2 separate regions of the Homo sapiens genome follow, and region 1 is linked to region 2. Evidence: fine-mapped expression QTL. A gene starts in region 2. The other region holds a variant in brackets. All regions are shown on one strand. Distances are between the middles of the regions.

Region 1 (10,923 bases), 510 kb after region 2:
CCTGCCACAAAGAGATGGGAAAAGCACACAGCTTAGAGAGGCCACTCAAAGGCATGGGGTGCTGCTCTATAAATTTATGATGTCACTTGACCATTTCCCAGTAATCAGAAAGCCCCAAATTTAAATGTCGGCTGGTTTCTGCCCATAAATATGTGTTTCTCACCACTTTGAGGAAGGTTCCCTAATGACTATGAAGCTTTGTGGAAAAGTGTAAAAAAAAAAAAAAAAAAAAGGTGTGGGTGGGGAGGGGGTTGGTAAAAAAAACCTTAAATGTTTAATATTCAATAAATGTGTCAATTTTACATACAGAGGCAAATGGGTCTTTACTGAGGAATTGGTAAATTTCCTCGGAGAAAAGTAAGTGCATTTTAGCCTTCAAGGAGTCCCAGATGAATAGAAATGGAATGTGATTTGTGATAAAACTCAGCTGCTCTATAAAAGACGTTAAATAAATGTTGCTGTTTCACCAGGGATGTACAAAATTGATTGCATTATAGACTGATTCTAAGATGCTGCATCCCTGTACGGCCCCCTCTTCTGTGTGTGGGGGGGAGCTGCTTCCAGAGACAATTTAGACTGCATGGTGACTCCTCTTCCTCATGCTGTAGCAGAATTTTCTGGAATTGTAAGATTTCCTCTTTATATTTTGATTTCAGTTGAACCACAGGAAACTGCTGCTATTTGGCCATTTTTGACTTCTTCAAAACTGCAATTTCTTCTCTATCTGCTTAATATTTCCGGTGGCCTGATCATCATCCTGGGGAAGGCTGCTGATACCTCCAAAGAGAATTGTGGTTGCTGTCTAGGGTTCACGGGTGGTGATGTCCCTGTTCCCTTTGTCTGGTCACCAGAGGGCACCCCAGTCTGTAGAGGGAATCTTGCTTTTCCTTCAGCCCACCTTGGGGAGCTTGGGAGTATCCCGTGCCCTTTCTGAATCTCAGTTTTCCCCCTCTGCAAAATGGGCACAACTCCACCTTTCCTGCAGGGTATTTGGAAAACTGGATGTGGTAACCATTGCAGGTAAACTGTCCCGTGCTTTTGGCCAGCTAGTATAAGGTATTGTGTATCCAACTAGGGGCTGCATGTGACTCACATATGACACACACAGCCCTACCCTCAAGGAACTGCTAATGTCACGTCAACATAGGACAACTTCTTCAAGTGAGAAATTAGGGTTCACAGATTGAAGGGTGGAACCAAACTGATCAGGAAAACTTCCTGGAAAGCAGGAGCGTGGACTCATTCAGACACGTCCCGTGCCTCTCCATGCCTGCTGTCATCAGCCTGGTCTGGTCACTGCCAATTCCTGCCTGGATGCTTGCAGGGGCCTCCCTGGCTCCATGCAATTCTCTGCCATCTCACTTCCACCCTGGCAGCCAGACAGGGCATTTCAAGATGTAAACTGGATGTTGATACTTCCCTGCTTAAAACCTCCCCGGACTCCCCATTCCATTTCAGATCAAATCTGAACTCTCCAGCCCAGTCTGCAAGGCCTGTGTGGTCAGGGCCCTGCCTGCTTCTCTACAGCATTTCCTCCCACAGTCCTTGTGCTTTGCTCCACCCTCTGGCCCTTCATTTGGTTCCTGGAAACTGCCAAGCCCAAACCAGCCCCAGGACCTTTGTACGTGCAGTTTCCGCTACCTGAATGCCCTCTCCTCCCAATTCTTTGCCCAGTTCAGTGGTTCCCAAAGTCTCTGGCCCAGCAGGATCAGTGTCACCTGGGATCTTGTTAGAAATGCAAATTCTTGGACGGGCTCCAGACCTACTGAATCAGAAACTCTGAGGGTAGAGCCTGGCGATTTTTTTCAAGGAAATTTCAGGTGATTTAAATGCATGCTCAAGTCTGAAAATCAATGGCCTAACTCAGGCCTACCCCTCAGCCAAGTTGCAGCTTAAACATTACTTCCAGCAGACCAACACCCCAACATGAGGCCAGTTTCCTGCTGTCGTGAGCCCCTGCTGCTGCCTCCTCACCTCTATGAAGCACTATGGCAACTGTGATGTCATCAGGAACTATTTCAAGTCTGTGCCTCTTCATAGCTAGACTAAAAGCTCCAGGAGGGCAGGTACCCCTGTGCGCCCAGCACCTCATCGTGCCTAGAAGAGAGTAGGTGCCCCGGAACTATATGTTGCATGAGCACATGAATGAATGCTCAAATGAACAAATGAATGAGTTCTGGAAGAATGACAGTGTTCATAAAGAAAGTGCCCCCTGGCATCCTATTTTCCATCCACCAGCCCACAGATCAACCCTGTCCCCGTCCCCATTTGACTTTCTGAGTATCACCCTGGTCAAGTCAGGAGCCAATCACAGCAATGTATGGGAATGACCATCAAATTAGAACAACAAGAACATCAACCAAAGAACCAGCCAAGGGGAGACTCCCACGCAGTAGATGCCCAGCTCAGGGTCTAAGCCTGAACATCCCTCAAGAAGAACAACAAACCTCTCTCTCCCTGACAGCAACTGGCTGTGCAGACAGCTTCCAGATAAAAACCTAGAGACCAAAAATTTGCAGGCAAGAAGTCTGCCCATCAGCTTGGAAGATTCCAGTCCCGCACTCACCCAAGTCTTCTGGCTGAGAGGCTGAGGCTGCCTCGAACTAAGCCCCGAGTTTATTGGAAGCTTCTCGATGCTGCACGGCAGTTTGCTCAGCTCTTGGAGCTAAAGCTGGAAGGGAAATCATTTCTTTTCCTATAACTCAGAGCAGTTATATTCTCTTAGTGTGGACATCTGGCTCACTGCTGATCTCCTTACTTACGTTTTCCAAACGATATCAGTTCTGGGAAGATCAATTATTACTGAAAAGTCGAGAAACGTTCACTGGTTATTTGCATTGATTTGGTTGACAAGACACAGACTCCTTTTAAACTACAGATGTCCATGGAAGGGACAGAGAGGAGAAAAACACAAGAACCCCAGACAGCTCGAGGTTCGGAGCCTCCACCCAGCTGCAGGAACTGCACAGAGTGGAAAGCGCTGGCTGGGATGGGGACACTGAACCACCCTCCCGGAGTCCCCCAGATAGAGCCATTTCCATCAAGACAAACAGGTAGCCAGTGTTGGCCAGCACCACAAGCAGCCACGATGATATAATTTGTTCGTTACTGCATCATCTTTAATCAATAGGATCTGGAGTTTCTACAGCTTGGACAGCCCAAATCTCTCTGGCAGCCAAGAACCAGCGGGTTGTTAAAAGGCCCGATAGTTCTGCCTCGCTAATGGGTGGCTGGTTCCCTCAACCCTGCTGATTTTTTAAATAAACCTAAATTCCAATAATTGTTTAATGTTTATTTTTATTTAGTTCTGGTTCAGATGCTCTGCGTCTCTCTGACAGAAATTGATATCTGGCTCCTGGTGAGCTTTATTAAAAAACAGGCAAACACACATGCACATACACACACAAACACACACACAGAGGCACATGCACACACAAAGGCACATGCACACACACACACAAGCATATGCACACGCAGAGACATGCATACGCACAGGTGCATGCACACACGTGTGCACATGCACATGTATACGCAGGCACAGGTACACACAGGCATATGCACACACATGCGCACACACAGGCACATGCACACACACACAGGTGCATGCACATGCACGCACACACACGCACGTGTACACAGGCACAGGCACACGCACACACAGAGAGTGCATATGCTGCCTGCCCATTGGGAAATGGGTTATTTATTTGGTACAGGTAAGGCCCAGGACCCACATATCTGGATGGGAGAAGACAGAGGGCCAATTTCCCAAGCTCTGCCTTCTCTCCGGCTCCTTCCCCGGGAGGCGAAAAGGGACCCTGCCATTCTTTCACCAGGGAGCCCTGTTCTCAGCTCAGGCACTGGACAAAGGTGACACTGAGCCCCTAATTATGGCCTGCAAACCCCTTCAGCATCACTGTGGCCACAGGCTGGGATGACTCCTCAGAGAGGGCACTCTGGGCTTTTCCGTCCCATAGCCCCAGATGTGTCAGGTGGCTGTGCTCCGGAGACCCACTGAGCCACTAGCCATCTGCGTGCACAGGGACACGGGACCGGGGTTTCCCCACAAGCCATGGAAACAAGGAAGCAAGATGTCTCCGGGCTGCTTGCATTGGGTCAGAGAGAGACCCACTCCCACTGGTGCATAAGAAACCCCTCTCGTCTGTCCTTCTGGCCGGTCTCAGAAAAGCCGCAGTGAGTCTGGGTATTAAGGGGAGGTTTTTGGTGCTCTCAGCAGGCTGCACAATGCACTAAGGGGCTCAGGTGTTCACTGGCAAAATCACTGCAAACTGATGACCTGCAGATCGGGCTTGCCAACAAGGTCAAGGTGTGTGTGAAGGTCAAACTCGAGGCTTTCCTTCCATACTCTGCACCCCGTCCATCAGACTGGGGGTTGCCCAACTTCTCCATCTCTGTCACCCCCAAGTGGAATCAGCCACTGACACCTGCTGGGATGACTCCAGGTGTTACCAGCACCTATTCTCTCCTTGGATGCCAACGCCACTCTGGGTCACAGCCCAAGAGGCATCACCAGGGCAACCAGAACACCTTGCTGGACCCTACCTGGCGCTTCCCCACTCCCCTCCCATTCCCATGCACCTTGACCAGAATTGCCGATGCCAGACATGGGCCCGGTCCATCCCTCCTTAATCTCTCCCGCTTCCCAGGAGACACTCCCATGGCTTCCACATGCTTATTCCCTCCACCTCGGCCTTCCTACCACGCTGGGCCCGAGGTCAGGGACCCAGCCACGGAGAGGAACAACCTGCTATTTTCATCTTTCCAACACACCACACATAAGAGGAAGTGATGTCAAAGTTCCTCTTTCTGTCGGAGAATGGGGAAGACTGGAATCATTGAGCAGTTTCTGCAGCAAGTGGAGAGGATGTTGAAAAGAACCCAGGCTTTGTCATCAGAAGAACTGGGTTTCAGGAGGCAGGGGTTGCAGTGAGCTGAGATCGTGCCACTGCATTCCAGCCTGGGTGACAGAGTGACACACCGTCTCAAAAAAAAAAAAAAAAAAAAAAAAAAGAAGAGCTGGGGGTGTGCATCCAGCTTCAGTCACTTCCTAGCTGTGTATCCTGGGCACATCACCCTATCCTGTGATCCACGGTGGGGGCAGTTTTTTTTTTTTTCTTTCTTTCTTTGAGACGGAGCTTTGCTCTTGTTGCCCAGGCTGGAGTGCAATGGCATGATCTTGGCTTACCACAACCTCTGCCTCCCAGGTTCAAGTGATTCTCCTGCCTCAACTTCCCGAGTAGCTGGGATTACAGGCATGTGCCACCACTCCCGGCTAATTTTGCATTTTTAGTAGAGAAGGGGTTTCTCCATATTGGTCAGGCTGGTCTTGAACTCCCGACCTCAGGTGATCTGCCTCCCAAAGTGCTGGGATTACAGGCGTGAGCCACCACGCCTGGCCAGTTATTGTTCTTAATACTCTCATCCTGGGAGACTCAGGACGAATGCTCAAGTGCAATCCCTTACTGCTGCATAGGGGCTGTTACTGTTGGCACCCCAATTCTTGGAGGCAGTTTCCTTAAATTCTTCCCCCTAGTACCTTGCATGGGGCATCCAGTGGCCCTGTTTGCACAGGGAATTTGCTTCCATCCACAGCTGCCACACACAATCTCTAGCGGGCTCCCTGCTGTCCACATATGGCCCATAGTCATTCCCTGCCACCCTCATGCCCTCTGGACCACCCTGGCCTGCCACCAGCCACCCCAGCAGAACCACGTCTCTGTGTGTAATCGACTCTAATAATTGTCCCAATACATAAGGCGTGTACTCAGGGTCTATTATCAGCTAATGAGTAAATAATATTCTGTTCTAAATCCAAAAGCGCTATTAGATACCAGAGGGGGACTAATGGGCGTTTTAAGACCCCTTTAATCACATATTAACGTGACGCGAAGCAGGCTGCGGAGCCCATATGCCAACCACCCTGCCACTGAGGAGGCTTTTTCCTCTTTAAAAGAACAAAGTCAGGGAGAGAGCCAGCCCTCCATCCTCAGGGCTGGTTAGGCAGCCAGGCCGACCCGCTGAGGGTGGAAGAATGTCCCTGATCCGATTGGCTATCTTTGAATAAAACGAGTATGGTTGTGGCCATCCCTGCTTTTCTGGGGCATGGTGGGGAAAGGGGGTTCTGTTCCTACGGACGCTGTGATGAATTACCACCAACTAGGGGAGTTTAAAACAACAGGAATGTCTTCTCTCCCGCTTCTGGAGGCTGGAAGTCTGAAATCAAGGTG[T/A]GGGCTGGCAGGGCTGCGCTCACTCTGCAGGCTCCAGGGGAGGGTCCTTCCTCGCCACCTCCAGCTGCTGGTGGTCGCGGCCATCCTTGGTGTTGCTGGGCTTGTGGCATCGCTCCCATCCCTGCCTCTGTCATCACATGACTTTCTCCCTGAGTGTCCCTGTCTTCATGTGGCCTTTTGACAAGTACAATCAGTCATTAGATTTAGGGCCCACCCTACTCTAGTATGGCCTCATCTTAACTGATTTCACCTGCAGAGACCCTGTTTCTAAATAAGGTCATACCCTGAGGTTCTAGGTGGACATGAATTTTGGCGGATGCCATTCAATGCAGGACAGAGGTGAGATGGAGGGGTAGTGATGACAGTGGGGGGAGGGGGCAGGCAGGGGGCTCTGATATGGACCTTCATACTCTGAGCGACTATAACATAGAGTTCCTGCCATCTTGCAACCCCCACCCGGCTGAGCATTCCACAAAAGTTCAAGCACCCGACCCAAATTCCTCCCACTGATCCATCATGTCCTATTAGCAACTTGCGTTTCTTATTAGCTACTTCCATCGACTCATATTAATATTTGTTTTCCCTAATACAATGCAGGAGTCTTCTCCGATTAGTAACTTTCATATCACATTAGTGGAAACAACTATGAATACAATACAATCCCAATATGACACAGTTTGATGGGGAGTCACTAACACAATGCGACTCTCCCCTGTGATGGCACAGGAATGTCGCTCTGTTGTCAGGCAGAGCTAGGGAACGTGGAAACAATCAGTCCCCAGCATGCTGAGCCACATGGGCCACCCTTGACCGACGGGACGAGGTTCTGGTGTGGTGGGAGGTCCTGCTTGGAAGGAACCAACTTAGTGCGTCTCTCCTTGTTTCCAAACACCCACCCATCAGATCAATAAGGATCATTCCAGCTATTCTCCAAAACTTCTGAGCAGCCCTGGAATCTGCAGGGGACAGGTGACAGGCAGAGAGAAGGGCTTGTGACATCTTCTGCAACCCAGATCTCCACAGCTCTACCTTTATCAGTGTGACAGGCAGGGCTGGTGTTGCCCAGGTTAATTCATCAAGGATGTGTGAACACAGCAGAGTTGGGGTGAGGTGAGGAGCCACAAACTGGGTTGCTGTCTGATGAGGCCTCAGGAAATGGGTTGGGGAGGAACGGCGCTGAGACGGTGCACATCTGTCAGGGCAGTTTAGAAAGACTTCACTCCAGCCAGCTTGGCTCCGGACTGGCTTGAGTTCAAATCTTATCACTGCCCTCTCTAGGTGATCTCTCTGTGCCTCAGTTTCCTCCTCTGTAAAATGGGGATAAAACAGGGCGTACCCTGAGCGCAGTGGCTCACAACTGTAATCCCAGCACTTTGGGAGGCAGAGGTGGGTGGTTAACTTGAGGTCAGGAGTTCGAGACCAGCCTGGCCAACATGGTGACACCCCTTCTCTACAAAAATACAAAAATTAGCTGGGCGTGGTGGCGTGTACCTGTAATTCCAGCTACTCAGAAGGCTGAGGCATGAGAATCACTTGAACTCAGGAAGCAGAGGTTGCAGTGAGCTAAGATCATGCCACTGCACTCCAGCCTGGGCAACAGAGCAAGACTCCATCTCAAAAAAGAAACAAACAAACAAACAAACAAACAAACAAACAAACCCAGGGCCAACCTAATAGGATTGTTAGGAGGATTAAATGAGATAGGAACAGAAAAAACTTAGAGCTTTGCATGGCATCTGACAACGTGGTAAATCTGCCTTAAGATGCAGCACAGGCTATGACTGCAAATCCTGAAGTGACTCGGTCCCTTCTACCATGGACGGGGGTCACCCCTCCTTGCCTTTCAAGTTCACCCACTTGTTCTGAGTGAGCTCTGGGCTAGGCATTACAGAAAAATAAAAAGTTGAGGATGAAACAGGCCCTCCCCCTCGAGAAGCCCATGGTCTACTTAGGGGCACAAGCTACAGAACCGAGAGGCAGGGGTCATATCACAAGAGGTTTTCGAGCCAAGTCAAGGAGTGTGAACTTTATCTCGATGGAAATAGGGAACAGTGGAAGAAGCAAAAGCCCCTAAGCTTCAGTGCAGGTGAAGGAAAGAAGGCCTGTGGGGACAGGGGATGGTGCTTCCCTTGGTGCCAAACCACCTGTCAGCTCAAGTCCTGGCAGAAAGAGAGGCCAAGGGATAGCAAGAGACAGAGACAGACAGGGGCAGGGAGGACAGTGCAGAAGCTGAGACTGTGAGCTTCTTGTGACAGTGCTGGCGCTCTCGCTCTCCCTGCCAGCCTGTCTAGGAGACTGGCAGAGCCCCCGCCCTGCCCTGCCACAATCCATTCCAAGCTATCCCAGGCAAGGTTGCCGAATAATTCCCACCGCCTCCAAACGGCACTCCACGTGGCAGCCAGCAGCCTGCTGCCAAGGGGCAAGTGGCCAAGATTCCCTTCCAACAGAGACATCCCCTCGCCAATCAGAATGCGGCCGGCACGCGTCCCAGAAAGTTGGACGGTTGCTGTTCGCCAAGCAGATGATGCCGTCAGGACTTCTCGGTCCTGGGCAGTGTCCGCTACCCCCGCCCAAGCCTCCCAGCAAGGAGGGTCCACTCTCAGGGACCAAACACCGGCCCCTTCCACGTTTAGCCTCTGCAGATCCTCCTGATGAAAGCACAGACTCTACAGTCAAAATGCGAGGGTTCAAAGCCTGGCCCCTCCATCAAGCAGCTGTGCAAACCAGAGCAAGTCACTTAACTTCTCTGAGCCTCGGGCTGTGTTCACAACATGGGGTTCATACCTCATAGAGTTGTTGGGTGGGTTAAATGAGAATATCTGCAGGAAGTGCTTTTCCAGTGCCTGGCACTTAGTCCATGCTCAATAAATGTTAGTTTGGGTATTACCATCTACGGTATGTCGTCTACTCAGAACTCAGCTAACTGATAATGTCAGCTTTCCAGAATGGAGCTAGGAGCCAGAGGGTTAGAAGAAAAGGCTTCCAAGCAGTTAAAATAAATGTCGCAGGCTGGGCGTAGTGGCTCACGCCTGTAATCCCAGTGCTTTGGGAAGCTAAGGCAGGAGAATCGCTTGAGGCCAGAAGATCAAGTCCAGCCTGGGCAACAATAGCGAGACTTCGTCTTTACAAAAAAATGAAAAAAGTTAGTCAGGTGTGATAGTGCACACCTATAGTCCCAGCTACTCAGGAGGCTGAGGCAGGAGGATCACTTGAGCCCAGGAGGTTGAGGCTGCAGTGAGCCGTGATCACACCACTGCACCCCAGCCTGGGTGACAGCGAGACACCCAGTCTATAAAAACAACAACAACAAAAAAGAGTCAAAGTGGACACACTGAAAGCGCAATCATGAAAACCATTTCATATTAGTAATATTAGAGTAACATGCTTAATATAATCGTAATTAGTAATCACCACCACCAAACACTGTGGATAGCAATTTAAATACGTCTTGGCATTTCACCAGTAGGATGCTGGTAAATGTTAAACAACCAGCTCTCTGGAGAAAAAGGACAAATTCTGATATTTACCATTTCCATGGTGTACATTTTCCCACCATGGTCAATTTCAAGCCCTGCTGTGATGTCACTACACGTGGAGCTGGGAGGCGATGCTTATAGCTGGTTCTCACCCACCAGCTCTGGTCACTGCTGCACGAACACTCTCCACATCCCAATGAGGTCAGTGCTATTTTTACCCCCATTTTGTAGACAAGGACAATGAGGCCCAGATACACATATTTCTTCACCCAGGGTCATACAGTGAGCAAGTGGCAGCAGCACCAGAATTTGAGTCCAGTTCTGTGTGGATTTTAAAGTTCATGTTCTCTGCACGTGGCCCAAATTCCCCGCCATGAGACAATAACACTGACCGTCTTGGTAGAGACAGACGACAGTCTGTGTCCACTCTCCACCAAACCCTTGCATCTTCTGTGCTTAACTCTGTTTGACAACTTCTGGAGGCCACTGCCTCAATGAGGTCACTCTGGTTTGGCTCTGAAGACGTCCTGCCATGTGGGTCACCATGGCCCTCCATGACCTTCCTACTTCTCTTTTCTCAGGGGGCAGAAAGATGCATCTCTTCCCTACCCAGAGAGCTAAACACCAAATGTTTTCCTAATAAAATGGCATATAGGATCATAGCCTCCACCCCATCCTTACCCGCATAAATAGCCCCTAGTCCCTTACGACACAGAGGCCCTTCTGACAGCATCTACAAAGTAGCTTAAGAAAAAAAGGGAATCCATTGCTCATATAATTGAACAGTGGAGTGGTGGCTTCAGGTATGGCTGGATCCAGCAGTTCAAATGCTATTCGCAGGGTTTGATTTCTGTCTCTTGGCTCTGCTTCCCTCTGATCTGTCCTCCTCCTCTCCCCCCCATGGCTGGCCCTAAAACTTTAATTTTCACACGAGTCACCTGGAGATCTTGTTAAAGTACAGATTCTGCTACAGGGGGTACAGGCAGGGACAAGTCTCTGTATTTCTAATGAGCAATTCAGTTCTACTGTGGACCACACTGTAACATCACACTGTTAGCAGTGAGGATGTGAATCCCCAACATTCACATCCCCAAATTGCTCATGGGACCCCTAACATTCCTCTGTGCCTCAAGGTTTCATAAACTCCCAAAGCAATTATTGCGTGACTTCTAACTACGAACACCTTGGGGGGCTGATCCAAT
Region 2 (10,573 bases):
AAATATTCGAAGTAAGGCCGGGTGCAGTGGCTCACGCCTGTAATCCCAGCACTCTGGGAGGCCGAGGCGGGCGGATCACAAAGTCAGGAGATTGAGACCATCCTGGCTAACACGGTGAAACCCCATCTCTACTAAAAATACAAAAAATTAGCCGGGCGTGGTGGTGGGCACCTGTAGTCCCAGCTACTCAAGAGGCTGAGGCAGGAGAATGGTGTGAACTGGGGAGGCGGAGCTTGCAGTGAGCCGAGATGGTGCCACTGGACTCCAGCCTGGGCAACAGAGTGAGACTCCATCTCAAAAAAAAAAAAAGAAGAAAATATTTGAAGTAAAACAAAACAAAACAAACACACACAGTAAGGGCACAGTAACTGACGCCTGTAATCCCAGAACTTTGGGATGCTAATGTAGGCGGATCACCTGAGGTCGAGAGTTCGAGACCAACCTGGTCAACATTGTGAAGCCCCGTCTCTACTAAAAACACAGAAAAAAAATTAGCCAGGCGTGGTGGCGCACACCTGTAATCCCAGATACTCGGGAGGCTGGGACATGAGAATCACTTGAACCAGGGAAGTGGAGGTTGCAGTGAACCAAGATTGCACCACTGCACTCCACATTCCAGCCGGGGTTATAGAGTGAGACTCCATCTCAAAAACAAACAAAAACCAACAAAAATAACAACACAACAATAAAAAATGCAAACAAAAAATACAGGTTAACAACTATTTATTTACACAGTACTTACACTGTTTTAGGTATACATACATATATATGCATGTATATATATTTATATATTTTGATATGGATATGATTTGATATATATATTAAATATATATATTTTTTGATATGGAGTCTCCCTCTGTCACCAGGCTGGAATGCGGTGGCATGATCAGAGCTCACTGCAACCTCCACCTCCTGGGTTCAAGCGATTCTCCTGCCTCAGCCTCCCGAGTAGCTGGGATTACAGGTGCGTGCCACCACGCCTGGCTAATTTTTGTGTTTTTACTGGAGACAGGATTTCACCATGTTGGCCAGAATGGTCTCGATCTCTTGACCTCATTATCCACCCACCTTGGCCTCCCTAAGTGCTGGGATTACAGGCGTGAGCCATCGTGCCCAGCCAGTATTATAAGCAATCTAGGGATTACTTAACTCATATCTTGCTTGCCCTGAGAATACTGTGCTGGCAGCGAGCTGCACTTTTTTTGCTTTCTTTTTTTTGTTTTGTTTTGAGACGGAGTCTTGCTCTGTCGCCCAGGCTGGAGTGCAATGGTGTGATCTCGGCTCACTGCAACCGCCTCCCAGGTTCAAGCTATTCTCTTGCCTCAGCCTCCCGAGTAGCTGAGACTACAGGCGCTCGCCACCACATCCAGCTAATTTTTTGTATTTTTATAGTGGAGACGGGTGTTAACCATGTTGGCCAGGCTGGTCTCGAACTCCTGACCTCAAGTGATCCACCGGCCTCGGCCTCCCAAAGTGCTGGGATTGCAGGCGTGAGCCACCACACCAAGTCAAGTACTTTTTTTTTCTAAATGGGAAATGGGTTAAAGCATATAGGAGGGTGTACATAGGTTATAAACAAATGCTACACCATTGTATATCAGGAACTTGAGCATCCACAGATTTTGGCATCTGCAGGGGGTCCTGCACCCATCTGCTGAGGATACCACCATGCAACGACAGTAATTGGAAATTTGCTGAATTTGGGGGCAATATTTGAAACTAAAAATGTCAAGGTTCATTTGCATTTTCAGTTTTACTTAACGTTCCTATGCCAAGGCCAATGTTTATGATAGAAAGAGAAATTTACTTACACACTTGTATATTTTGTGTGAGGGCTTAGTAGAGACGAAAAATGCCTTTGGGGGGGCCGGGCGCGGTGGCTCACGCCTGTCATCCCAGCACTTTGGGAGGCCGAAGTGGGCGGATCACAAGGTCAGGAGTTCGAGACAAGTCTGACCAACATGGTGAAACCCTATCTCTAAAAAAAAATACAAAAATCAGCTGGGTGCAGTGCTGTGTGCCTGTAGTCCCAGCTACTTGGGAGACTGAGGCAGGAAGCTTGAACCCAGGAAGCCGAGGTTGCAGTGAGCCGAGATGGCACCACTGCACTCCAGCCTGGGCGACAGAGTGAGACTCCGTCTCAAAATACAAAAAAAAAAAAAGGTTTGTTTGGTAAAGAGATAAAGAATGTTCGTTCTGGATTCAGATTGCCTGAATTTCAGTTCCAGCTCTGCCACTACTACCTGTGAAATCCTGAGCCAGTTACTCTTCCTCCAAGCCTCAGGTTACTCCTCTGTAGAACAGGGACATAGTACCAGTTTCATAAAGTTGTTGTGACCATTGCATGACACAAGGTATATGAAACACTCAAATTAGTACCTGGCACATGTTGAAATGTTATCTACTATAGTAATATACTAAAAAAGTTCACAAGAGGTCTCATAGGTTTTATGCATACAGTATGTGTGTATGGTTTATGCACTTTCACATAACCCTGTGATTCTTCAACAGGGTTATGTTTTCTAACCCCAAGGAGACATCTGGAAAGGTCCAGAGACATTATTGGTTGTCACCACCTGGGGAGAGGTGCTACTGACATCTAGTGGGTCAGGCCAGGGATGTTTCTAAACACTCTACAATGCTCAGGACACCCCGCCCCCTTGCCAAAAACAAAAAAGAATAATCAGGACCCAAAATGTTAATAGTGCAGAGTTGAGAAACCCTGATTTAAACAGGGCATATGGAAACGTATTTCATAGGATGTAGTCACAAGATCTATATACGCATGTATCTTGTGGTCATGTCATAGTCCAGATACACACACATCTAGAACGCACTATGTCCACACACACACACATCTAGAATGTACTATGTACTTACATATGTATCATTATACAATGTACCTAGAGTAGCATCCTGTCATGTATGTGTCCCATATGCATTGATTGTGTCAGTATCTACATACAAAAGCCACTCTGACATACTGGAAAGAATGCTGAGCCTCAGAAAAGCTAATGTTATCTCCATATACATAATTCCATTTCATCCTCACAACTGCATGAGGACATGATATCATGCCAACTTTATGCAATGACTATACTAGTTCAAGACTGCACAACTGCTGATGTAGGTCAACCTCATAGTACGGACAGGAACTGTGTTTATCTTATACGCCAACGTATCTCAAGCATCCCAAGGGTGTCTAGACTCTCAGTAAACATTTGTGAAGTGACAGGGTGGGGAGGAGGACCCCGGTCTAACTGCAGCACTATGCTCGTAACCAGCAGATCACCATCTTTTCTCTCTTTTTTTTGAGACGGAGTTTCGCTCTTGTTGCCCAGGCGGGAGTGCACTAGCACTATCTCGACTCACTGCAACCTCCGCCTCCCGGGTTCAAGCGATTCTCCTGTCTCAGCCTCCCAAGTAGCTTGGACTACAGACGCGCGCCACCAAGCCCGGCTAATTTTTTGTATGTTCAGTAGAGACGAGGTTTCACCATGTTGGCCAGGTTGGTCTCGAACTGCTGACCTGAGGTGATTCGCCCGCCTAAGCCTCTGGGCTGGGATTACAGGCGTGAGCCACCGCGCCCAGCCAGATCGCTATCTGAACAGCGATCGACTCTCCACTCTCTACGGCCCCTTAGAAGGAACTTCACCTCTCTGAGCCTCGTTGTACCTATCTGTAAAGTGGGACAGAAACAAAACCATCCAGACTAGGGTTAGAGACAGGAGTCAAACACAACAAAAGGGGCAAAGTTCTGCATAGCAGATAGCTCGGACAATTCGGAGACCTCGCGGAGCCAGGGATCCCGCGCCGTCAGCCGAGGTGGATTAGGACGAGGCCTCTGGAGCAAGCAGAGGTTAACTCGCGACTGTGCGAAAACCTGCAGCTCAGCCTAAGTGTGGCACCCCAGCGCAAGCAATCTCCACGACGTCCTTCCGCTCCGACCTCCTCAAAATTGCGTCCGGAAGAGCAGTGGGTGACCCCTGCCACGCCGCCCAATCGCTGTGCGCGGTCCTGCGCGCATGCGTAAACCGCAGGTCAGCGACGGCGGCCGGGAGGCGGAAGTGGAGGTTGTTGTGGCTCCGAGGGCTGTTCGAGGAGCTGCTGCTGCTGAGGCGGCGGCAACTGCATTGAGGTGGTGGCGGCGCTGCCGGCCCCGGGCCGCTCGGCCTCTCGGCTCGCCTTCCAGCCTCGCCTGAGCCCGCCGGGGCCCGCGCCGGCCAGCGCCTGCCCTATGAGTGTGTCACTGGTTGTTATCCGATTGGAGCTCGCGGAACACTCGCCTGTCCCCGCCGGCTTCGGCTTCAGCGCCGCGGGTGAGTCCCGCGGCCTCGCCGCATTCCCTGTAGCCGGGTCTGGGCCCGGAGGGCTTCCCTTCCCAAAGCACTGGCCCGGGAAAAGCCCGCGGCGAGGGCTGTTGCCCAGGAAGACACGGAGAGGTAATCGGGATCCCTCTCTTTCCCATCCGCCTTTGAGAGGCCTTCCCGTTTGTTATCTCAGGGAAGCCCTGCCCCGAACCTCCCTCCCTGTGCCGTCTGAGGGCATTTAGTTTATACCTGGCGCGTCTCCCTCTCGAGATAGTCGAGTGGTGTGTTTGTCTCACTTGCTTCCCTATGGGCTTCGTAAAGGCAGGGACTGGGTCCCCAGCAACGCTGGACGGTCCCTGGGTTAATTAAATTGTTCCCTTTTGGAACGATATCCATTGAAGTGCCCCCTAACCATAGTCATAACTAAAATTTGGACACTTCCTATATCCCAGCACTGTACTAAGCACCTTTTGTGTATTGTATTCTTTAATTATCTTTGCAACAGCCCTAAGAGGCAGATGGATGTGACATGTACCTCTTACACATTGGGAAACTGAAGCTTAGTGATTAATTGATTTGCCCAAGGTTATCTGTAATGGGTGAAACTGGGATTCTAACTCAGTGAGCTGGACTTGAGTCTGAGCTTTTTACACCATTAACACAAGTGAGGAAGCTCCTTAGTGGGGAATGCAGCTCTGGCTCTGTTCCTTGGTCCTCAGATAATTAACTAACATTCATTCAAGAAATACTTGGCCGGGCGCGGTGGCTCACGCCTGTAATCCTCACACTTTGGGAGGCCGAGGCGGGCGGGTCACCTGAGGTTGAGAGTTCAAGACCAGCCTGGCCAACATGGTGAAACCCTGTCTGTACTAAAAATACAAAAATTAGCTGGGCGTGGTGACAGGTGCCTGTAATCCCAGCTACTGGGGAGGCTGAGGCAGGAGAATCGCTTGAACCCGGGAGGTGGAGGTTGCGGTGAGCCAAGATTGTGGCACTGCACTCCAGCCTGGGCGACAAGAGATAAAGTCCATTTCAAAAAAAAAAACAAAAAAAAAACTTATGCTCATATCTGCTGGAGCCTTCCTTGTGTGCTGAATCAGACAGCGTCTCTGTTTTAATGGCACCAGCAGTATCATGGAGGAAACAGATGAATTAAATAAGTGCAGAATATGTGTAGAATTACAACTGTGGTAAGTGCTGTGAAGGAAAGGAGAAACAATTTGGGAAAGTATTACAAGAAGATGTGTTTGGTTTGGAGAGAGGGATGGGGGCAGGTAGGGATGGTGTCATTGGGAACTTCCTGAGGACGTGACCTTTGAAGCTGCAAATTAAAGATTGAATATGACTTTATAGCTTATGAGCACCTTTCCAAAGGCTAAAAGTGGCTTCTGAGTTCTGAGAGTCAGCTAAATTGATATTAGCCGCATATAGACATCTGCATGGGTCAGTCATGTAGTCATTTATTCATCAAACATTTAGAGGGCTTCCTCTGTGTGCTCGGCACTGTGGTATAAGGGCTGGGAATACAGTGGTGGGCAAAACAGGCCTTGTCCCTGCCCTGACAGAGCATGTATTAGGGATATTTCAGTTAAGTCTCCAAATTCCGTTTCCCTTTTCATGTGTTTCATTGATTTAAGACAGTAATCACAGATGTTCATGGCTTGGTTCATGGCATGAGCATAAGCCAGGATGTTTAAGACTACCCCTACAAGTTTTTGAAATTTTGTTTTTTTAATGGACTTGATAGCTTCATTTTGGGCTGAACACAATTTCATTTTATCAGGTGTTACTAAAATGTTAGCTCATCTGGGCATGATCACTGTTGCATCTTCTCTAAGGCTCCCTCTTTGGCGATTTGCTTTAAAGTGCATGATTTTGGGCCAGGCGCAGTGGCTCAAACCTGTAATTCCAGCGCTTTGGGAGGTCAAGGCGGGTGGATCACTTTGAGGCCAGGAGTTCGAGACCAGCCTGTCCAACATGGTGAAGCCCCATCTCTACTGAAAGTACAAAAATTAGCTGGGCGTGGTGGCACGTGCCTGTAATCCCAGCTACTCGGGAGGCTGGGGCAGGAGAATCACTTGAACCTGGGAGGTGGAGGTTGCAGTGAGCCAAGATCACACCACTGCACTCCAGCCTGGGTGACAGAGTGAGACTCTGTCTCAAAAAATAAAAATAAAGTGCATGATTTCAGTAGAACAGCCCTGCATTTCTGAGTATATTGTCCTGGCTGCTTATTGACTCTTTGCTGTGTACTGCAGTGGTCCCAGAGTTGAGTGAGATGGATACTACAAAGGCTTCTTATCATCTTGGCGGAAGGCAGGAGAAAGAAAAGGAAAACCTAATGATAGAGGAATAGAGAACAGAGAGGAGCTTGTTTTATTACCTTGTATTAATCATTCATGTGTTCTTTAGCCGGGGAAATGTCTGATGAGGAGATAAAAAAGACGACACTAGCCTCAGCTGTAGCCTGTTTAGAAGGCAAGTCACCAGGAGAGAAAGTAGCGATTATCCATCAGCATCTCGGCCGTCGAGAAATGACAGATGTGATCATTGAGACCATGAAGTCCAACCCAGGTATGCTTTCTAAAACCCTGGACTCTCTTTTGTAATGTGAACACTGGTTGCCTATTTTATACACGGTGTTTGATGAGCCTACAATTTCAACATCTAGCATACTTTTGTCTTTCACTACGTGTGTGCTTTATATGACACTGTTAAGCCACATGTTAGTGTTTCCAAATATTTCTTCCAAATTAATCCTAACAGTTGGAGTTGACAATTCAGTTCAGTGACGGGGGGGACTTTTTTTTTTGAGGCAGGGTCTCTGTTGCCCAGGCTAGAGTGCAGTGGTGCAATGTCGGGTCATTACAACCTCAGCCTCCTGGGCTGAAGCAGTCTTCCTGCCTCAGCCTCCCAAGTAGCTGGGATTACAGATGCCCTCTACCACGCCTGGGTAATTTTTGTATTTTCAGTAGAGACAAGGTTTCTCCATGTTAGCCAGGCTGGTCTCATACTCCTGGTCTCAAGTGATCCACCTGCCTCGGCCTCCCAAAGTGCTGGAATTACAGGTGTGAGCCACCACACCCGGCTACCAGGGAGAATTTCTTACCACCTAGTTCAGTGGCAGATCATTAATGTGTCCAAATAAACATGTCGTGCCTTCCCCTGCTCTGCCAGCTCATTTTTTCTTTCTTTCTTTTCTTTTTTTTTTTTTTTTTTTTTGAGACAGTCTCACTTTGTCCCCAGGTGGGAGTGCAGTGGCATGATCTCGGCTTACTGCAACTCCACCTCCTGGTTTCAAGCAATTCTCCTTCCTCTCTCAGCCTCCCAAGTAGCTGGGACTACAGGTGCACGCTACTACACCCAGCTAATTTTTGTATTTTTGGTAGAGACAGGGTTTCACCATGTGAGCCAGGATGGTCTCAACCTCTTGACCTCCCAAAGTGCTGGGATTACAGGCATGAGCCACTGCACCCGGCCAGCCAGCTCATTTTATCTGCGGAAGTGGATGTGTAGATAGTACTACATCTCCAACATGGAGGTGGTCAGAACTGGTAGGTTTGGATTTCCACCTTAGTAGCCCTGAATGTTTGTCCCAGTTAGGATTTCGTGATAGAAGATACCTGCTTGCATTATGGTATTGCCAAATGTAATAGCCATCCTTAAGTTTCTGAGGGTGTTAATGAGATTTTTATGGAGCAAAGAGAGCTTTAAAGTATGATGCCCTCATAAACTCAGCTATTCTACAAATAATAGCTGTTAATGCATTACATTGTAATTACTCTATCAAAGTTTATTCCTCTGACTTGAAATTTTAATCTAGTTCAAATCCTTCAGCATATGTCCTATCCATTTATAATCTGCTATTTTTTAACTGGTGAAAGATGAACTAAAAACTACAGTGGAAGAAAGGAAGTCTTCAGAAGCCTCCCCCACTGCGCAAAGAAGTAAAGATCACAGTAAGGAATGCATAAACGCTGCCCCAGATTCTCCGTCCAAACAGCTTCCAGACCAGATTTCATTCTTCAGTGGAAATCCATCAGTTGAAATAGTTCATGGTATTATGCACCTATATAAGACAAAGTAAGAAAACCCTCTTTTCTTGGGGGTTAGTCAATTTTTTTTTTTTTTTTTTTGCTTTGCTTTAGCATAGTCTCTTGTCCTGAAGGAAAGTGGGTATTTTAAGCTTCAAAATAATAATACTTTTGTCTGTTGTATGTTAGAGAATTCTCAGATGTTTTACATTTGATTAATCTTGTGGATTGGGTCAAAGCTTTTCCTTATAAAAGAAATGCTTGTGGATACACTTAAGAGAATATGTGGGAAAAATGTTTTCTTTTTTTTTTTTTGAAATGGAGTTTCGGTCTCGTTGCCCAGGCTGGAGTGCAATGGCGCGATCTCAGATCACTGCATCTTCTGCCTCCTGAGTTCAAGTGATTCTCCTTCCTCAGCCTCCCAAGTAGCTGGGATTACAGGTGCCCACCACCACACCTAGCTAATTTTTTGTATTTTTAGTAGAGATGGGGTTTCACCCTGTTGGCCAGGCTGGTCTTGAACTCCGACCTCAGGTTATCCGCCCGCCTCAGCCTCCCAAAGTGCTGGGATTACAGGCGTGAGCCACTGCGCCCTGCCAGGAAAATGTTTTCTTAGCAGATAGGCATGGAAGGTGATGGGGAATTGAAAGGACAAAGAAAATGATCCACAGCATCTTTGTAGTCTCATGTCCCCACCAAATCTTTACTGAAGAGGCTGCTAAGAAGTCAGTTAACTCATTACAATTTTATTACCTCTTTTTTACCATTTTCTGTGGTTCAAACAAAGCTTGCTAGAGCCCCAAGGAAAGGAAGCATTTGGCTAGATAATCCACAAGCCCAGCCACTACCTTCTTGGGTAATGGTAGCTGATACCTTAAGGCTGTTCTTGTGCTAACTCATTTGCCAGATCTCTACTGGGAAAACAGTGACTATTCAGGTAGCCATTTTGTTTTTTGTTTTGTTTTTTGTTTTGTTTTTTGTTTTGTTTTTTTTTGAGACAGGGTCTCACTCCATAACTCAGGCTGGAGTGCAGTGGTGCAATCCTGGCTCACTGCAACCTCCCCTCCCGGGTTCAAGCAATTCTCCTGCCTCAGAGTAGCTGGGACCACAGGTGCACACCACCACGCCCAGTTAATTTTTTTTTTTTTTTTGGCAGAGATGGGGTTTCATCATGTTGGCTAGGCTGGTCTCGAACTCCTAACCTCAAGTGATCAGCCCACCTCAGCCTCCCAAAGTGTTGGGATTACAGGTGTGAGTCACTGCACCCGGCACAGGTAGCCATTCTGGATCACAGCTGTCAAGTGAGTTTGCAGCATTTCAAAAAACAAATTGCATTGTGGGAGGATTTTCTTTCCTCTCTATTCCAGCCATCTCAACTTGGTAACACTTCCTGTAATCCTCAGTTACATCCTCATGGTTTAGAATTCTCTCTTGCCGGGCGTGGTGGCTCACGCCTGTAATCCCAGTACTTTGGGAGGCCGAGGCGGGGGATCACGAGGTCAGGAGTTCGAAACCAGCCTGGCCAACATAGTGAAACCCCATCTCTACTAAAAATACAAAAATTAGCCCGGCGTGGTGGCACGCGTCTGTAATCCCAGCTACTTGGGAGGCTGAGCAGGAGAATTGCTTGAACCCAGGAGTCAGAGGTTGCAGTGAGCCGAGACCATGCAGCAAGACTCTGAAAAAAAAAAAGACAGAATTCTCTCGTATATTTAGAGCTGTTTTTTTAGGCCTTTTAAGAGAGGTCCATAGCCAGAGTTGTGCTTTTAAGTTAACCAGTGACAGATTTTTTTTTTTTTTTTTTTTTTTGAGATGGAGTCTTGCTCTGTGGCCCAGGCTGGAGTGCAATGGCGCGATATTGGCTCACTGCAAGCTCTGCCTCCCAGGTTCACACCATTCTCCTGCCTCAGCCTCCCAAGTAGCTGGGACTACAAGCACCTGCCACCATGCCCGGCTAATTTTTTTTGTATTTTTAGTAGAGATGGGGTTTCACCGTGTTAGCCAGGATGGTCTCGATCTCCTGACCTCGTGATCCACCCGCCTCGGCCTGCCAAAGTGCTGGGATTACGAGCATGAGCTACTGTGCCTGGCCACCAGTGACAGATTATTATTCAAACATTGATGAGAGTAAAACACTGCAAATTTACCGAATGCAGATTTATAACCGTAATAAATGTTGAACTGAAGATTAAAAAGTCCAATGGGGGGTATAATATAGAACAGTTCATT

The links. PIP is the estimated chance that this variant, and not a neighbour inherited with it, causes the effect.
Region 1: its variant is fine-mapped to the expression of ACAD10 in whole blood (TOPMed, PIP above 0.99).

What each region holds. Positions count from the first base shown.
Region 1 is chr12:111,164,651-111,175,573 of GRCh38, reverse strand. The region is part of intron 1 of CUX2 (cut like homeobox 2); the gene reads right to left. Among named protein-coding and RNA genes, the nearest start is that of MIR6760, 130 kb to the left of the region's middle. The variant T/A (reference allele first, on the strand shown) is at 6,246.
Region 2 is chr12:111,679,457-111,690,029 of GRCh38, reverse strand. It overlaps ACAD10 (acyl-CoA dehydrogenase family member 10), which reads right to left and starts at 3,977. Exons shown (of 21, transcript NM_025247.6): 1 at 3,791-3,977. BRAP (BRCA1 associated protein) reads left to right here and starts at 4,074. Exons shown (of 12, transcript NM_006768.5): 1 at 4,074-4,319; 2 at 6,723-6,884; 3 at 8,195-8,393. The coding sequence starts at 4,238. RefSeq lists a silencer at 4,202-4,301 and enhancers at 3,646-4,347, 4,348-5,049, 5,050-5,751.